Regions from separate parts of the Homo sapiens genome. Here regions 2, 3 and 4 are each linked to region 1. The links come from fine-mapping of genetic effects on gene expression. A gene starts in region 1. Each other region holds a variant in brackets. All regions are shown on one strand. Distances are between the middles of the regions.

Region 1 (2,602 bases):
CAGGCACCGTGGCTCATGCGTGTAATTCCAGCACTCTGGGAGGCAGAGGCGGAAGGATTGCTTAAGCCCAGGAATTTAAGACCATCACTGGCAACACAGCAAGATCTCGTCTCTACAAAAAAAAAAAAAAAAAAATTAGCTAGGTGTGGTGGCCTGCACCTGTGGTCCCAGCTACTTGGGGAAGCTGAGGCGGGAGGTCGAGGCTGCAGTGAGCCATGGTCATGCCACTGCACTCCAGCCTGGGTGACAAAGCGATACCTTAGCTCAAAAAACAACCCAAACAAACCTGGGAATGGACTGAACAGTCTCCATTTCAAGATTTCCTCCTTCCATTGGAATTAACCTGTTGGTTGCTTGTACTGGCATGTGGCAACCAGTCTTAGCCCAGTTTTAATAGATCCCTGTTTGGTGTTACTCAACAGAGAAGACCACTCGGCCCTCAGCCACCGAATAAGTTTAAGAAACAGAGGTGTGGCATGCTTCATTCTACAGGTAGGGAGGCTGAGGCTGGGGAGCCGCCCCTGGCTATCCCTGGAAACCCCTCTACCCCACAGGAATCGTCCCAGCCATCTCTTTAGCGTAAAGGTGAGGAACAAATCTCAGCCACGATCCAAAGAGGGGCGCCACCCCTGGCTGTCCCTGGAAACCCCCCTACACCACAAGAATCGTCCCAGCCACCTCTTTAGCGTAAAGGTTAGGAAGAAATCTCAGCCACGATCCAAAGAAAGCTTGGTATTTTTAGCACCAAGGCCAGAAGGAGCGTGTCCTTACTCCTTGGTTTACAAAGAAATAAAAACCTTTTCCCCATCCTTCTTTTGATTGAAGACTACCCCCGCCCCCAGGCTCCAAAGCCGGGCAGGAACGCCTCTTATCTCCACCACAGCCATTTTCCTAATCCTTCGCCCGCTCTCCACGGTCATCCCGTGTATCCCTCGAGACGCCGCCTCCCACAGCTCGTGCTTCTCCCAGGTTCGGCTCCGACAAGGCCAGAGCGGCGTCTGCGCAGCGCAACGGCTCAGAGCGCTCCCGGCGGCTACAAGTGCCCGGCCCCGGGCCAGGCCCGGCCTGCGCCGCGCACCCACTGGGAGGGCGCGGACCGGGGCCGCCCCAAGCCTCCGGCACCGCCCAGAGCGGGACAAAGGGGCGGGCCGGCGACCCGGCCTCGCGGTCCCCGGTGCCGCGCGGGCCGGGAGGCGGGGTGCGGTGGGGGAGGGGCGAGGCGGCTGGGGGAGGGGCGGGGCCAGGGCGGGCCCAGGCGCCCGGGGCCGCACCGGGCGGCGCAGGGAAGCGGCGCCCCTTCCTCGGCAGACGGCAGGCGCCGCGCCTCCGGCCCCGCCCCTCCGCGCCCCTCCGCGCCCCGCCCCCGCCGCTCGGACGGCCCGAGTCGCGCCCTCCCGCCCCGCGCCGCGGAACTTGCTCTAACTTCCTCGGCCGAGCCGGGCCGCGCCGCCGCTGCCGCCGCCGCGCGCGGGTGAGTAGAGCGCGGAGACCTGGCTGGGGCGTCGGGCCCTGCCCCTTTCTTTGTCTGAGGCCGACTTCCCCGAGCGTTCTCCGGGGGCGAGGGCTGCTCCTTAGGTCCCTGTTTGGCCCCTCAGCCTCCCTCCCCGCCTGCCCAGGAGCGGCCCCGCGGGCGGCGCTGGCTTTGTCTGCCAGGATTGCTCGCTAGAGGTTGGAGGCCTCCGCCGGGACCCCGCTGAGCCGAACTCCGGCGCCGCGCGGACGAGAGCCGCGGCGGGCCCGGGGCCGGCACTCCTGGTTCGGTAGCCCTCGCCCCATCAGCGCGCCCCGGCGAGTGCGCGCCCGTGCCGGGCGGGGTGAGGGCGACGGGAGCCTGGACGGCCGCTGCTGCTCGGGGCTCTGCTTCTCGTCCCCAGCAGCGAGCTCGGGGATGGGCCACCCTTTCGGCTCAGTCACCCACCCTCGGCTCCCAGGAGATCGGGTCCGGGGTGGGGGTGGGCGTAGGCCGGGGCGGGCCGCCCCTTCCTCCTGCCCCGCCGTGGTTGTGCTCAGTCTCCCACGCCGCCGTGGGTCCCACTCTGCCCGGCTTGGGTTTGGGACGGCCGGAGTTTGAGTAGGCGGTGACCCAGCTTCTCCGCGTTAGTCGTGTGGGGTTGTGTTTGGGAGCAAAGCCTGACCCCTGACCTAGCCGGAGTTCTGGTAGAGTGAGGTTTGTGGCTGCGGACTGTGCTTGTCCCGGGCCGCTGCTGCTTCTCCTCCACCCCCAGGGGTGGGGTGCGGGTGGGTAGGAAGTGCCTGTGTGAGGGTGTGTGGAGGGACTTTGGCCCTGGGACCGCAGGAGCACTTGTCTTGGGGACTTAAAGTTGATCTCCGGCGAGAAACAGTCCGTGCTAGGGGGAGTCGGGGGAAGTCGTGGGCCCGGGTACTGGCCTGGGGCTGGGCGCAGAGCGGTGGTGAGTGCGGCGGTGTCACACACTCGTTGGCTGTGCTGGCGCTGCTATCCGGGAGGTCAGGCGGTGCTGGGCGGCTGTGCAGAGCATTGTATTGGAGCCTCTGCAGGTGTGCTCTTGGCAGTGGTCTGCTCTCCAGGGGATCTTCCTCCCTTCCGAGAGGGAGTTGCTCTTGGGCTAGTGAGAGAGTGGCC
Region 2 (2,602 bases), 62 kb after region 1:
CCAGGACTTCCTTTAGGCTGTAGGGAGTGTGCTCTTAGATGCAAAGAGAAGGAAGACCCCACCCCACTCCAGTCCTTGTTCTAGTGGTCTTTGGTGATATGAATGACTGCTGTTCTAAAAGGGAGGAGTCTCGAGGAATCTTCAGAGACCCCACCTGTTAGCCGTGGATATGAGGGATGTGTCCCTACAGCTTGGGGAACTGTCCTCCTTTAGGGACCTGCATTTCACAGGGAGAAAGTGCTGTAAACTGAATGTGTGTGTCTCTCCAAAATTCACATGTTGGAACTTAAACTCCAATGTGATGGTATTTAAGAGGTGGGGTCTTGGGGAGGGGATTGGGTCATGAGGGCAGAGTCCTTATGAGTGGGATGAGTGTCCTTATGTAAGAGGCCCAGAGAGCTTATTTGTCACTCCACTGTGTGAAGACACAGTGAGAGGGTGCCATCCATGAACCAGAAAGTGGGCCCTCATCCGACACTGAATTTGCCAGTGTCCTGATCTTGAACTTCCCGGCCTCCAGGACTGTGAGAAATAAATTTCTGTTGTTTATAAGCCACCTAATCTATAGTATTTTATTCTAGTTGCCTGAATGGACTAAGATAAGAACCTATATCAACATCAGCTTCCCTAATTATGATTTTTTTTGCCACTTATATTAATTTGCTAAGGCTGCTGTCACAACATACCACAGACAGAAATTTAAGCCACAGCAGGCATTTATTTTCTCACAGTTTGGAGGCTAGAAGTCCAAGATCAAGGTGCTGGCGAGGTGAGGTGGGTGCCTTCAGAGGGCTGTGATGGAAGGGTCTGTTCCAGGCCTCTCTCCTGGCTGCAGGTGGCTGTCCTCTCCCTGTGTCCTCACGTGGGCTCCCCTCTGTGCATGTCTGTGTCCTGATCTCCTCCTCTTAGCAGGATGCTCTTCATATTGGATTAGGGGGCACCCTGATGGCCTCATTTTAGCATAATTACCTCTGTAAAGAGCCTGTCTACAAATACAGTCACCTTCTGAAGTCCTGGGGGTTAGGACTTCAGTGTATGGATTTTGAGGACACAATTTAGCTCCTAACACCTCTAAAATTAGGGGCTAATACTCCATCATGTTGCCATGGAGGAGGCTGATAGGTGTGAGGGGGCTGGGGCCGATTGCCCTGTGTGGGGTGGGCAGGGCTGGGGTGTGTGCTGGGATGGTTACTGACACCCCACCGGGGTTAGCAGTGGAGGGAGCTGGTTGGCTGGCGACTGTTGCCTGCTGGCTCTGTCTCCTGGAGCTGAGCTTACTGGTGGGATGCCCGCTCCGAGAAGCACCCTTCTTCTCTTCTTAGGAGACTCTGGACCCCCTTCTCCAGGTTTCTCTCCCTTTAGAGGCACATTTTCCTCCAAGCCTTCAAGCCCCTTCTCTTTCTCCAGATGTGGATGGTGGGGAAGGGTATCTTGAGAAAGTTGGGCTTTAAATCTCTGGAGACCTGAAAGGAAACAGCCAGGGAGCCTTTGGTCAGACAGGTGGTGCGATGGCACAGTGCCCAGCGAGGGGCAGAG[G/T]CTGAGAGGAGCTGACGAGCATCTCCTGGAGAGTCCTCCTTGCCTGCCTCCTGGATCCCTCGTTCCCACCCTGCTTTGCCCTGCTCCTTACCAGAGCTCACTAGGGGATCAGGTGGGGACATCGTGTGTGCCAAAGGCTCAGACCCCTGTGGTGTTTTCCTGCAGCTGAAGAGCAAGTGGGATGAGTCCATCTTCACGAAAGGCTGCATCCAGGCGCTGGAAAGCTGGCTCCCGCGGAACATTTACATTGTGGCTGGCGTCTTCATCGCCATCTCGCTGTTGCAGGTGTGTCCCAGGAGCCTATAGGATTGGCAGGTGGCCTTTTTTCATTTGAGATTGGGCCCTTAACATAGAGTGCATGGGTCCAGTTTGGGTATGGTATTAAGGAAGCTTGCAGAAGAAAAAAAGGGATTCAACTGGATGTCCAAGGCTGAGAGAGTGTATGCGTGTAAGTGTATTGGGGAGGAGAATGGTGGCTTCCATAAACGCTACCTATAGGGGGGCCCTCTGGGCGGGGGCAGGCTGGGAGGGGCTTGTGGCCCTGCACAGGTCCTGGTGGCAGCCCTCTCCAGAGGGCCCAATGGGCTGCAGAAGGGTCACTGCCTATCTGGAGGTAGGTCAGGAGTGTGCTCGGGGTGGGCCATCAAGTGCTGCAGATGGGGAGGTGAAACCCTTGGTCACCTGGGGCCTGAGGGTGGCCTGAGGCTCACGTGTGTGCACTTGCCCCAGGACCTCTCCTCCTGTCTCTGGCCCCTGGGCTGGAGTTGTCAGGTATCTTCCCTGTCCATGAGACATCCTCTGAGGCCTGCTGCCGTTTGTGGCATCCTTTCCTCTCCCAGGCTGTGCTTGTTCATTTGAACCAGGTTGCACATGTGGGAGGATGTTGGTGGCTGAGCAGGCAGTGAGGCCTGGGGTGACTGGGCTGGTTGGTGACTGCTAGGAGAAGAACTGGCAGAGAAAGTCAAGAATTCAGTGATCAGAGAAACCAGGAGTCTTTCCAGTGCTGTTCAGGGCTTCCAAGAAGCCGCAGCTTCTGGGTCCACTGATGCATTTCTTGTGTGGAAAA
Region 3 (2,602 bases), 70 kb after region 1:
AACCCGGGAGACAGAGGTTGCAACGAGCCAAGATCGAGCCACTGCGCTCCGGCCTGGGTGACAGGAGACTCCATCTCAAAAAATAAAATTAAAAAAAAACTACTACAATAAATTATCACCTTGGACTGTATAAAACAACTTTTAAACTAGTCTTTTTAAAAAGTACACTTAAATAAAAATCTAAACATAAGAGAATGTAAAGTGAAAAGTGAAAGTATGTCTTCTGTTACGCAGAGGTAACTACTATTAGGAATCCTTCCTGAAAATGTCCATGCATCTACTCAGGTCATCACACCCATGGAATCATTTTACATACTATTTTATGAGTGTTACTTAATATACTGATCCACAGTGCGTTTTCACGGTCACGCCATCAGTTGTAGGAGTGTGCCAAGAACAGATGGGCCTTGCCTTTGTACCAGAGGAGTCCATTTACAGTTGCAGGTAATAGAAAACCCAATTCAGACTGGCCTAAACAATGAGGGGAGGTTTTGGCTCTTGAAACTGGAAAGTCCCAAGGTGGGGTGAGTTTCAGGTTTGGGTTGATCCAAGTGGCTCAGTGACGTCAACAGGATCTTGTTTCCATTTCTCTGCCTTCCACAGCCTCCCCTTCATCTATGGTGGAGGGAAGGAGTCTACCACAGACAAACCCCGAGCCTCCCCCTGATGGGTGGTGTGGTGGTGAAGCCAGCAAGGGAAGGGATCCCCGGACACACCCCTCCTCATGCTTTATCCCACTGAAACCATGCGGCTGTGAAATGCAGCATCCTCCAGGAGGGGGATGAAGGCCGGGGATGCTGTCAGCTATTGCCATTGCACTTCTGTGGATGGGTGTTACAGTTTTTTGCAGGGTTTTGCACTTACAAGGACATATATATATATATATAAACTACAGTGTTATTGGAATTGCTTCTTACAGTTTGTAAGAAAAAAACATGTTTTTAGAGGAGTTCTCCTGGGAGGTGGGATCACATTTTTTTTTTTTTTTTTTTTTGAGACGGAGTCTCGCTCTGTGGCCCAGGCGGGAGTGCAGTGGCGCAATCTCGGCTCACTGCAAGCTCCGCCTCC[C/T]GGGTTCACGCCATTCTCCTGCCTCAGCCTCCCGAGTAGCTGGGACTACAGGCGCCCGCCACTACGCCCGGCTAATTTTTTTTGTATTTTTAGTAGAGACGGGGTTTCACCGTGTTAGCCAGGATGGGGGATCACATTTTAATAAGTAGGTACTCAGGGCTGGGGTGTACCTGTTGCTGCCTGACCACTGCTGGTGTGTGTGGGTATAAGGTGACAAAACCTCCTACCCCTGTGAGGTTGTTTCAAGGATTAAATGAGTTGAGATGGGTAAGCATCTAACAAAGATCCAGATTATTTAGTATGCATCCCCTGAATTATTGCTAACATAATTTTAATGATTGGGGAATTTTATCTGTGGCTGCCAGTCCCTACGAGAGAGCTGCCTGGGTCACATGTCAGATAGCTCAAGCTTTGAATCACTGAAACGAAACGGTCCACTTCCCTGTCCCTTTAGGAACAAGGCTTCGAGGTCTGTGGCAAGCCTCAGCAGGCATTTGGAGTTCAAGGTCTGTTCTCTTTCTGTGCCATAGAGGTGGGGAGACAAGGTAGGGTGTTGCTTCTTGCCTGGAGCGCAGATGCTACCAGAAACCAACACAACCAAAGTTGCCCGGGAGCCCCCAGAAGCAGCAGAGTGGCCATCAACTGCCAAGGGGCCAGGGTAGGCCACAGAGGCCTGGGGCCCAGGAGGGATGGTCTGTGGGGAGAAAGGGGATTATTGTGAACATCAACGCTGGGGATAATGTGCCCTGAAGACAGCAGCATATCACGTTTGGACGGTTGGTGGACCCCATCTGGTCCCACTCATAAGGAGAACAGAGGCCCTGGGGTGTGCTGGGACTTGCCTGAGGCCTCAGACCGGGACTGGGTGCTCCTCCGCACCTCCTATGAGGGAGGGTGTCCGTGTCTGTGAGGACAGCTCAGCAGGGCTGGGAACCTGGGGGCAGTGCTGGGGGACATGTGTGAGACTAGCGTGTGTGGGCCTTGCTCGGCTTGCCCTGGTGCCCTGAGAAAAACCTGGTATTTGAAAATACACATGGACTGCTGGAAGGTCAGGAAATCCAGGGTTTTGTTCTGAGGCAGTGGAAGTGTTACCGTGAGCCTGTGTTGGCCTCTCTCCTCACTCCACCTGCAGCCAATTCAGCCACACTGCCTTTGCATGGAACCCAGGGTTGCAGGCCGCGTGTGTAGATGCTGATTTAGGCCCAAGCACTCAGCTGTCAGCAGGAAGGACCATAGTGTTTTCTTCTAGTTTTAGATATGCACTCGTTCTGTGTTTTAAAGTCACAGCTGTGAGCCAATATGGGAAGAAGTGAAGTGGCCTCTAGGAGGGACTGAGCACCCTGTCCTTGGAGGTATGCAAGCCCAGGCTACACCCTTCCTGTCTGGGATGATATGGCTGGGGGTGGGCTTTGTGCTGCGTGGACCATGGCAAGCCTTTCCATCTCTGAGAGGTAGTGGTCCTTCCCGTGCCTTCTGTTAAAGATAATTTTTTAAAAAAAGGCATAACTCATATATATTACATGTACACATGTCA
Region 4 (2,602 bases), 30 kb after region 1:
TAAAAAAGGGCAGGAGGGAGGAATATTAAAGGTGAGTACAACACTGAAGCCAAGGAGCCCTGTTTATGATGACTGCCAGCCTTATATATTGTAGCAAGCATTCTCCTTCCCAGCAGGGGCACCTCCAACCAGCAGCGGCCCCATTTTCATTTATAATACAAAGGTGGTAATGGTAAGTGTGATGCTGGAAACCTTTTTGGAAAATCACTTGTAAGTCCACCACCACCCCATGCAGCCATTTTCATGCTCTTAACATTCCACTTTGGCCTTTAAGCACATGCTTACAAATTGTCTCATAATTGCAAACCATGAGGTTCATGTTTCACTTAATGTGTATTCTTTTTCTGGAGGCAAATTCTTAGTCATTAGTTTATTGATTAAGGGTGTGACCTTTTTTTGGGTGGTAAATGTAACCATATTGCTACCAAATGGTAGTAACCGTTTCATCTGCTGCCAACAAGGAATAAATGTGTTTGCCACAATAGTGGTGGCAATTTTGTTAAATTAAAAAGTGTAAAGTAGGCCGGGTATGGTGGCTTATGCCTATAATCCCAGCACTTTGGGAGGCTGAGATGGGCAGATCACCCAAGGTCAGTAGTTCGAGATCAGCCTGGCCAACATGGTGAAACTCCTGTCTCTACTAAAAATACAAAAATTAGTTGGACATGGTGTCGGTCGCCTGTAATCTCAGCTACTCAGTAGGCTGAGGCAGGATAATCACTTGAACCCGGGAGGCGGAGGTTGCAGTGAGCCAAGATTGCACCATTGCACTCCAGCCTGGGCAACAAGAGCAAAACTCTTGTCTCAAAAAAAAAAAAAAAAAAAAAAAAAAAAAAAAAAAAAAAAGTGTAAAATAGGCCAGGCACGGTGACTCACGCCTGTAATCTCAGCACTTTGGAAGGCCAAGGTGGGCGGATTGCTTTGAGCTCAGGAGTTCAAAACCAGCCTGGGCAACATGATGAAACCCCGTTTGTACAAAAAATACAAAAATTAGCCAGGCCTGGTGGCATGCACCTGTGGTCCCAGCTACTCCAGAGGCTGAGGCTAGAGAATCACTTGAACCAGGGAGGCGGAGGTTGCAGTGAGCTGAGTGC[G/A]CCACTGCACTCCAGCTTGGGCAACAGAGCAGGACTTGTTTAAAAAAAAAAAAAGTGTAAAATAGTATATCTGGGTTGTCTTTAAGTTTTATTTCTAGTGACATTGAAAATTTTTCCTTTTTTTTAAATTTTTTTATTTTTTAAAGACCGGGTCTTGCTCTGTCACCCAGACTGGAGTGCAGTGGTGTCATCACTGTTCATCACAGCCTGGACCTCCCAGGCTCAAGCGATTATCCCGCCTCAGCCTCCCACGTAGCTGGGACTTCAGTCACCACACCCAGCTAATTTTTGTACTTTTTGTAGAGATGGTGTTTGGCCTTGTTGCACAGGCTTATTTTTCCATTTGTTACGTTATTCTTCCCTTTGTTATTCTTTCCTTTGTGTATAATGTTCATATCCTTTGTTCATTTGTGTACAACGGGGGTCTTTTTGAAGTATGGGTCTCTATAGGTTGCAGATATTTACTGTGTCATAATTTTTTCAGCTGCAGATAACATTTGTGTTTCCTTTTTTATTTTAATGTTACTTTTATTCATGGGGATTTTTTAGATTTGTTATCTGTTCAGGCTTGGTAGTCTTGTGCTTTGAATTGTTTTTTCCTGTTGCCTCAAAAGTTGAAGGTGGGTAAAATGGACTTGAAAACCCTGTTCTCTGGGTGTGGTGTGTGCATGTATGTGCATATGCCCTTTAAATCTGTAAGTTGTTATTTGCTTATTATTTAACTCCCCTCAAGTTGCTAACCAGTTATCTCACTACTGTTAAACAATTCTCCCTTTGCCCTGTTTTGAGAAGTTGGTATTTTGATAAACATGTGCCTCCTTCCTGCCACACTGATGCTTTATTTTCTATCACATTCTTAGAGTTGAGACAGTTTGAGATCCTAATTTTTTTTCTAGGCACACAAAATAGCTTTTGGAGATTCTTCTCTGCTGGAATGGTACCTAACATTTGTGAAAAGTTTACCCATCTCTACTTTTAGGAAGGTTCTTAGTCATGCGTGCGTGTGTGTGTGTAAGATAAAGAGTGTTGGTGTTCTTTGTGGATGCATCTGCTCATAGAGGGCTAACTTCTGCCTTCCTTCAGTATGATGTGGTTTAGCAAATGAGGTGAGATGCTAGGGACCATGGTCATTTTGGGAATCATTTTGGGTCAGATCTGGGTTCTAGTTTCAGCACTACTGCCTTTATCAGCCTTCCTGCATTTTTGTGTAAATGCCCTAGTAGCTCCGTTGGTGGCTCAGGAGCGCTCAGTCCTTTTTTCCTCCCTTGGGGTTCTGAAGCCTCCGAGCCATACCTGTTGTGCAGCTCCATCATTACCCCTCCACAGTCAGAAGGCCACCTTACACTGTGTAGGAGGATGTGGCTTAGGCTGGAGTCCTAATGAGTCTCCCATTTACCTTCTTCAGCTTAAACTATGTGGAGACCAGGATCTGCCAGCCCCACAGAGGGTCAGGACCTGCTTTCCAACCCGCTGGCCAACACAGCAGAGAGGGACAGATTGAGAGGTGC

Alleles and levels. Alleles are on the strand shown, and positions count from the first base shown. SD is a standard deviation of normalised expression in the study named.
In carriers of allele G in region 2, the expression in nucleus accumbens of the gene that starts at base 1,410 in region 1 tends to be lower than with T alone (small effect, 0.28 SD a copy in GTEx).
With allele C in place of T in region 3, the expression in aorta of the gene that starts at base 1,410 in region 1 is lower (small effect, 0.18 SD a copy in GTEx).
For the expression in visceral fat of the gene that starts at base 1,410 in region 1, allele G in region 4 goes with a higher level than allele A (small effect, 0.15 SD a copy in GTEx).

Evidence for each region. PIP is the estimated chance that this variant, and not a neighbour inherited with it, causes the effect. A credible set is the group of variants that fine-mapping cannot tell apart.
Region 2: its variant is the best candidate, but not a certain one, in a credible set for the expression of TSPAN14 in nucleus accumbens (GTEx, PIP 0.55).
Region 3: its variant is the best candidate, but not a certain one, in a credible set for the expression of TSPAN14 in aorta (GTEx, PIP 0.80).
Region 4: its variant is the best candidate, but not a certain one, in a credible set for the expression of TSPAN14 in visceral fat (GTEx, PIP 0.60).

The regions. Positions count from the first base shown.
Region 1 is chr10:80,452,901-80,455,502 of GRCh38, forward strand. It overlaps TSPAN14 (tetraspanin 14), which reads left to right and starts at 1,410. Exons shown (of 9, transcript NM_030927.4): 1 at 1,410-1,471. RefSeq lists enhancers at 766-975, 1,719-2,236, 2,186-2,445, 2,476-2,525 and a silencer at 1,006-2,055.
Region 2 is chr10:80,514,503-80,517,104 of GRCh38, forward strand. TSPAN14 (tetraspanin 14) reads left to right here. Exons shown (of 9, transcript NM_030927.4): 8 at 1,702-1,821. Among named protein-coding and RNA genes, the nearest start is that of TSPAN14-AS1, 20 kb to the right of the region's middle. The variant G/T (reference allele first, on the strand shown) is at 1,537.
Region 3 is chr10:80,522,431-80,525,032 of GRCh38, forward strand. It overlaps TSPAN14 (tetraspanin 14), which reads left to right. Exons shown (of 9, transcript NM_030927.4): 9 at 1-201. Among named protein-coding and RNA genes, the nearest start is that of TSPAN14-AS1, 12 kb to the right of the region's middle. RefSeq lists an enhancer at 636-715. The variant C/T (reference allele first, on the strand shown) is at 1,069.
Region 4 is chr10:80,483,106-80,485,707 of GRCh38, forward strand. The region is part of intron 1 of TSPAN14 (tetraspanin 14); the gene reads left to right. Among named protein-coding and RNA genes, the nearest start is that of TSPAN14, 30 kb to the left of the region's middle. The variant G/A (reference allele first, on the strand shown) is at 1,095.